Homo sapiens: one gene and its partner. The protein of the gene in region 1 purifies or fractionates together with the protein of each later gene. This does not show direct contact. Each region holds a gene or a part of one and is shown on either strand. Other genes may lie near its edges. The genes, in order: PLA2G4D and GSTZ1.

The links.
Region 2: the proteins of PLA2G4D (region 1) and GSTZ1 purify together in Homo sapiens (affinity purification with mass spectrometry; one large-scale study listed by BioGRID and IntAct). This does not show direct contact.

Annotation. Positions count from the first base shown.
Region 1 is NC_000015.10:42,087,785-42,091,596, forward strand, and holds part of PLA2G4D (cytosolic phospholipase A2 delta), read right to left. Parts: intron 1-3,812. UniProt on the Homo sapiens protein: Calcium-dependent phospholipase A2 that selectively hydrolyzes glycerophospholipids in the sn-2 position. Has a preference for linoleic acid at the sn-2 position.
Region 2 is NC_000014.9:77,327,354-77,331,165, forward strand, and holds part of GSTZ1 (maleylacetoacetate isomerase), read left to right. Parts: intron 1-118; coding exon 119-199; intron 200-558; coding exon 559-684; intron 685-1,769; coding exon 1,770-1,848; intron 1,849-2,401; coding exon 2,402-2,454; intron 2,455-2,956; coding exon 2,957-3,006; intron 3,007-3,715; coding exon 3,716-3,812.

The DNA of each region.
Region 1 (3,812 bases):
ACCACTCTCCTGGTACTTGGTGGTGCTGACACCCCTGCCAGGCGTTCCGGGGACACCCTCTGGGGACCAAAGAGCCTTTGTCCACTTCTGTTTTGGGGGTCATGGTTCTGGGCTGCAGCAGTCAGGGAATAGCAGCACACCCAGATGTGGAATTTGTGGAACCCCTTCCCCTTCGGGAACAGAGCAACATGGGTAGTGGACAGAGCAAGGAAGTGAGGGCCAAGGAGTGGCAACCACAGAGGTCAGTTAGATGTCAGCCATTCCCAGAGCTCCCAGGGAGGGCAGCCCTTTGGCAAAACAAGGGTTACCTTTGGTGACCCTGCTGCCAGCACTGCCCACCCCTCAGCCCTTCCGGACGGGAAGCAGGCATATGACTTAAGGGAGGGTGAGCCTCAGCAGCCCAGTCCACAGGCGCTACCCTGGATCTCAGCTATCTGCACTGTAAGGGGTATGAATGAGGAAACTCCAAGAGCATCCAGCCATCACAGGGAGCAGTGGGTGCTGTGGGTGAAAGGCCACTGTGTATTAAGATGCTGATGAGGCCACATCAGCCACAGACAGCCCAGGTGTGAGGGAGAAGCAGCTGAGTGGGCAGAAGCTGGAGGAGAAGATGAGCCGAGAGTAGGTGGCAGGAGGGAAAGCAGATGGCCAGAGGGGCGTGGCTGAGGCCTGCTGGGGTCAGAGCACTGGGGGTGTCCCCACACCCTACTGCTGAGGTCCCCGGCACTGCCACGATCAGGAGGGCCCTGGAGTTTCTGTTCTTCCTGAGCCCTGCAGCACGGCTTTTTCTGGGCATCTGGCACAGGTTTCTTATAAGCCCCTTTGATGTGAGGTTACTCAAATCGGTTTGGCAGGGCAAATGGCATTTTTTCCTGTGGGCTGACCCCAAGGAAGGCTGTTGGCCTTGCATCCTCTTGGAAGGGAGCCTTCCCAGGAGGACCACCTATGAGGCACGTGGCCCCAGCAGAAAGAGCCCATGTCCAGAGGGTCTGTTAGAACAGGGGCTGTCAGGAAGGAACACTGCCTGTGCCGGGGAGTGGGGCAGTGGGAGCCCCAGCCAGGAGGGGATCCTGCAGGGCCACAGCATGGCAGGACCCCCAGGAGGCACCAAGCACATGAAGGCCTATGAAATGCTAACCCCAGGAGCCATGCAGTGTGGCGGCCCTGCTGAACAACCCAGAGACCACCTTCATTCCAGAAAAAAACCCGTGCTGGGGCTTCTGCCATTCAGCGGCTCTGCCACCAGGTTAGACTCCCCATTAAGTAAGTACGATCTTCTCAGACCCTATGTCCCTTCACCCGCTCCTCCCCGACCCTGAGGGAGCCAAAAGCCAGTGCAGTGTTTGCACAGTGAACATTTGATATCGCATAGCTGGGAGACTGTTGTGATAAAACCAGAGGTGTTTCCTGCTTTGCGCTCTCCCGTGACCAGACCCACTTCCATGCATGTGGTTGGAAGTTCTCGGTGCCCACAAGGACTCGTACCCGCTCTGCACAGATGCTGCTTGCTAGGGGCTGGCTCAGCACCCACGGGGACCTGAATCTCCACTCCCCACCAAAAACTGTAAAGGACCATGGGCCACAGCAAAGCCATATGCCTGGTGGCCCTGCCCCTGCATCTTTCCTCTCTGTGGTTCCATGCCAACGTCCTATCATTCCAGGCAGCTTCCCAGCAGAGCACATGTGACCTCCCCGAGCAAGGTAGATTTGTTTCTCTCTTCTTGGGGATTAACTCCAGTGGCACCAGCAACATGTCAACTCTATAAACCTTAAGCCTTATAGAGGTTGTCAGCAGCAGAGATTTCATGAACTTTGGGACATCTAGCTCCATTTCCTCCCCTCACTCAGATTCCACCACTGCCGGCCACAGGGAGGTGATGGCTGGGATGCTGGGGCCCTGCAGGGTATTGAGTTTGAATGTCCCGCTCCAAGACAAGACAGGTGAAGGGCAGAGGCAGCCCAGCCTCGCTCCCCTGCTCCCCCGGCCAGGCTGATACTCCACAGGTCCACAGCTTGTGGGCTGCTCTAAAGTCACTTGGGCTACTGAGAAGTGGCCCCAGTTACTCACTGTCTAGCCAGTCACCATCCCGGGTTTAAGCACTGTGGTTCATTTCTCCCTCCCATCACTGAGAGCTTCTCAACCTCAGAAAGCCCACCATTCCCCGGCAGGTTATTTTCCCTAGAGAAAAATCCCGATTCTCTTCACCTCTAAGATCATCGCTAACATGGAGTGCCCAGAACATGGTATTATTGGGACAGTGATTACAATGACTGGTCTTTACGGGGGCTTAAAGGCAGACTCTGGAGCCAGGTTGTCTGGATTTAAACCCTGGCCCTGCCACTTACTTGCTGTGTGACCTTGGACAAGTCACTAAACTTCTCTGTGCCTCTGTTTCCTCATGTGTAGTGGAAATAATAGTTTTGACCTCACATAGTATTCTGAGGCTTAAAATGTTAATGCCTGCAGACTGCTTAGGAATAAAGTAAGCAGTTTTTAGGTAACTGCTATTGCTACTACTGTTTATTAAGTATTTGCCATGTTTTCAGGCACTGTGAATGTTGCAGATACCAGGATGAAATCACTTTTGTCAGACCCCGACAAATTAGGGCTGGGAACGCATGAAAGAGCAGAGCTCGTATTTACATGTCTGAGATGAGAGTTGTTTCCAAGGACTTCCTACAAACCCCACAGAAAACAGCTTCACATCCTTCATGCCAAAGTCCCTCTTTGACAGGAAGAGGGAAATGAGCAGACCCGCCCTGTTCCCTGCTAGCACCGGTGCCCTGTGGTGGGGTAATGCAGGAGGTCAGAGAGAAGAGGAGTGGAACACCTGGGCACAGCCCCTGGTCCTGGGGACTCAGTCCTGTGAATGCCGGCTGGAGGTGAGGCAGTTTCCAGTTGTGGGGCAGACTCAGGCTCCCAAATCGCTGACACTTAGGCTTTTGTTTTACCTGGGAGCTAGACCTAGAGGAGGCTGAGGGAAAAGGGGGAAGGGGTACAGCCTTCGCCAGGGAGATGAGTTGACAAGGTTCATCACTAGACATCCATTAGGACTGCAATAATTCAGATAAGATGCTCTCAGAAAACACGTGCCCAGTAACAGCATCTCCACCAATGAACTGACAACTCTGGCTTTGAGCTCTGGAACCAATGAACTCTGTTTCCAAGCAGTTTCTGTGAGCCTCCCCCTTTTTTCCAGTAAAAGCTTCCCTTTCCCCTTCCCTCACAATTGCCCTGGCGGCCTGTCATTCGACACATTCCGAGCCACAGTCATTTCTCATTCCAGAGTAAACACAACATAGAGATCATTTTCTCTCGTGTCTTTCTGTAGGGTGACAATACTGTACTAACCATATTACCTACCGTGTGGGTGGCAAGCCACCCAGGCGCCGAGGCAAGAGACCGAGGATACAAGCTGTTCCAGTATAATAAAATATAAAACAAGAATAGTTATACCAGATATAGATCTTAGATACGATTATATATGAATATCATTAATCATTAGTTTGTAGCAATTACTCTTCAGTCCAATATTATAATAATCCTCGCTCTATAATCATAACCTAGGAAAAACCAGGCCATACAGAGATAGGAGCTGAGGGGACACAGTGAGAAGTGACCAGAAGACAAGAGTGCGAGCCTTCTGTTATGCCCAGACAGGGCCACCAGAAGGGCTCCTTGGTCTAGCGGTGACGCCAGCGTCTGGGAAGATGCCTGTTGCCAGGCGGACCATGGTCTAGCGGTAGCGAAAAGTGTCAAGGAAAAACATCTGCTACTTAGCAGACCGGGAAAGGGAGTCTCCCTTTCCCCG
Region 2 (3,812 bases), on another chromosome or scaffold:
CCTTCCCAGGGAAGGGAGATGGGGGTGGGTGGCAGGCCTGGGGTTCTCCTGCTTGCTTGGCTTTCCTCTGGCCAACTCAGGCCAGGCCACCCAGCCCACCAGGGCCTTGTCTCCACAGTTTTCTAAGGACTTCCAGGCACTGAATCCTATGAAGCAGGTGCCAACCCTGAAGATTGATGGAATCACCATTCACCAGTCAGTGAGTGCAGGGCCTGGGGGAGGGCCCTCATGAGAGCAGTGCCCTGAATGAGAGCGCCTGACATCTCTTCCTCGCCTGTGTACAGTCAAGGTGCCTAGCACATAGGAGAGGCTCAATACAAGACTCGTGGGGAGGGTGCGAGGTTATTTAGGAAAATAAGGGAAGATTCAAGCACATGGAGAACCAAGTTCTGCATGATAAGGTCCAAAAAGGCTTATAGGGCTTGAGCTGAGCAGAAGCAGGGGGGAAGAGGTGTAGTGATGGTGCTGGAAGAGGAGAAGGAGGAGTTTGCTGGCCCTGTCCCCTCTGGTCCAGGGGTCCTGGGCCCTCTCCCTGCCTCACTGCTCCCCTCTGGACAGCTGGCCATCATTGAGTATCTAGAGGAGATGCGTCCCACTCCGCGACTTCTGCCTCAGGACCCAAAGAAGAGGGCCAGCGTGCGTATGATTTCTGACCTCATCGCTGGTGGCATCCAGCCCCTGCAGGTGTGGCACTTGTACACTTGCACCCTTGCACACCTGACACACTCTTACACTCACACATTGGCTGTGAGCTGCCCAGTGTGGGGGCGGGGGTGTCAAGGGAGGGAGGGGGATTCTCAGGGCCTCTGACCTGGACCATGTGAAAGAAGGGGGTGAAGATCGCAATCTCAGAATTCAGCCCCCCAGCGGGTCCCCCGCTGCGTTCCGAGAAGCTCTAGTTTCCAAGGACGCATGTACAGGTGCTTGGGGTGGGGAAAGGGCCAGAATGGCAGGGGAGAGACTGAGCAGGCCCCAGTCCAGGCCTCCTGCCTTTAACCAGAGCAGCTTCCGTTTCATCTGTGCTATCTCAGTCATATACTGGGATACTTGTAGGATTTTATTTTTTAAGTGTCACTGTTAAAACAGACAACTAAGTATTAAAAACAGTTCATCTGTGCCAGCTTCTACTCTGAATGAGGAAATAGCCCCAGAAAGGTGGAGTGACTTAGGAGTCCCACAGGTAGGTCATAACAAAGTGGGGACTAAGTCAGAATCCCTGCATGCCTATGCCCTCTACCCGCATGTCGCTTTAACAAAGGATGTTGGAGCAGACAGACATCTCCATTTTATAATGAGGAAACAGAGGGAAAATGGCTCCAGGGGTGCCAAGATGGAGCCAGGCTGGAAATCTCTGGAAGCCGGTCTTGTGGACCTCCCTCATCCCAGCCCCACCCTCTTTCACACTCCCTCTCCTCACAAGGGACCATGCAAGGGAGAAGTGAGGGAGACAGGCCTCGAGTTGTGGGCACACCTGCCACAGCCATGGCCGCGTCCTGTGTCACATGAATAGGGATTCTTGCACATCTCTGACAGAATCACGTGGCTTTTTGAGGCCACTGGGGCAGCCTGCAAAGGTGGCTGCTGGGATGGCTACCTCCCTCCAACCTCAGGGCCCTTGGTTGAAGGAAGGGGCTCATGGAGCCTGGGGGAGAAGGGATAGACATCCAGCCAGGGGCAGATGGGAAGTGAACTTCCCTGAGGGGGTTTGGCGAAGGGGTAGCCCCCACCCAGCTGTCAGCGCAATCACAGATTTTCTTTGGGCTGCACAGAACCTGTCTGTCCTGAAGCAAGTGGGAGAGGAGATGCAGCTGACCTGGGCCCAGAACGCCATCACTTGTGGCTTTAACGGTGAGTCCTCACCTCTGTGAGCTGCCCCACAGTGGCCTCTTAGAGGTATGGCCCTCGCACACAGGGGCCTGGGTATCTGAACCAGCCTCCCAGGCTGCTTTGGGCCTGACAGTTGCATGGATGAGGGCAGGACTGGGGAGGCAATGGGCTGGGTGGGCATCCAGACCTTAGCTCCAGCACTTCTGGGAACCTCGGTCCCTGAGCCCACAGCCCTTCATAGCTGGATGGCCCAACTTCAGCTTCACTGCCTACTCCAGCTGGGAAACCAAGGCCAGCACAGCGCCAGCCATCAGAGTGAGAGCTGTCACCGTGGCCAGTGGCAGGGCTTGTCCACTCGAGTGGGGAAATGGTGATTGTCTGTGCGGAGCCTCAGGAAACAGCAGCTCATCCCTAACAGCTCTCTCGAGACCTGGCTGCCACATTCTCACCAGCAGCCATGCCCAGTCTGTCACTCAGTTGGGCGCCCATTTCATAACTATGGAGGCCAAGGCCCAGAAAGCTTTGTGTCCCCTCCCTGCGCCCAGAATAAGATGTTTATGTGGCCTCCCCACAGCCCTGGAGCAGATCCTACAGAGCACAGCGGGCATATACTGTGTAGGAGACGAGGTAAGCTGTCCCCAGACCTCCCCAGGCCCAGCCACAGTGGCTGCCTCCCTCATGCTGACCTCCCTCAAGCTCAGAGCTTCCTGAGAAGGCGTCTGCAGGGGGATCTCTGTGCCATGGGGCACTCCTCAGCTCACTCCCACTAAACCGTCTTAAGAGGGAGTTACTCAAGGTAGAAGACTGGCTGTGAGAGGATGAGGCGGGCCAGCATCAGTTGAGGGATTGTGCTAGATGATGTCTGCGCAGTCAAGGCAATCCATCTTCTCTGGCCCTCTCAACCCACAGAGTTGGTTGTCAGGGCAACTGGAGCATGGCCTGGGAGGGCACTTCAGCTCCGGGGGACAGACTCATGCAGGCCTAGGGCAGACAAGAATTGGAGGTGGGATGGGTGAAAGAGCCGAAGCAGATTGTTGGTACCCCCAGTAGAGTCGCAGTGGACACACCCAGTCCAGCCACTGACTCTGGGGTATGCACCCTGATGGGAACCCACCGGGACCTCTTTCAGGTGACCATGGCTGATCTGTGCTTGGTGCCTCAGGTGGCAAATGCTGAAAGGTAAGAGAGAGCCCCGCCACCCTCCCTTCTCGTGGCTCTGCCCACAGTCAGGCCCCACTCAGCTGGCGAGATAGCATCTCATGCAGACGCTTCGCCAACCAGCCAAGGAGCCCACCATGCCAGGCCACATAGCCACTTCTGCCTGGAAGAGGGCAGAAGAAATTGGGGCAGTGCTCCTACTACGCCCACCACAGCCCAGATGAACCTGTATAGATAGCCCCAGCTCCTAAGAGGAGGTGGCTCACCTGGTGGACCCCCAAGAGCACCTGCCTGATGTCCTCAAATGTGGTGTGTCTGTGAGCAGTAGTGAGCTCTACCTCTGCATCCTTCCGTGAACCCTTTGGTAGGGCACAAATGAGCACCTCTCTGGAAGGCATCATGCTAGGCGTTAGGGATATGGAAACGTATGGCACATTCCCTGCCCCCAAGAAGCTTACAACATGGGGGAAGAGAGTCTGTATATATAAATGCCTAGCACTGGGCCTTACACATAGCAGGTTCACAAAGAAATAGGAACAGTAGGTAACAGATGCCAAATGATACTGCACAAGACCTACCCATCCCCTGTGAATAAGGGCTGCCCCATCGTCCTTCCCTGGACAGCTCCCTCGACCTCATCCAGCCCTGCCTCTCTGCTCCCCCTGCTGCATCAGGGCAGTCTCCCTGTGTCCCTGAAAACCTTAGCTTAGCAGGTGTTTCTCTACTACAGATTCAAGGTGGATCTCACCCCCTACCCTACCATCAGCTCCATCAACAAGAGGCTGCTGGTCTTGGAGGCCTTCCAGGTGTCTCACCCCTGCCGGCAG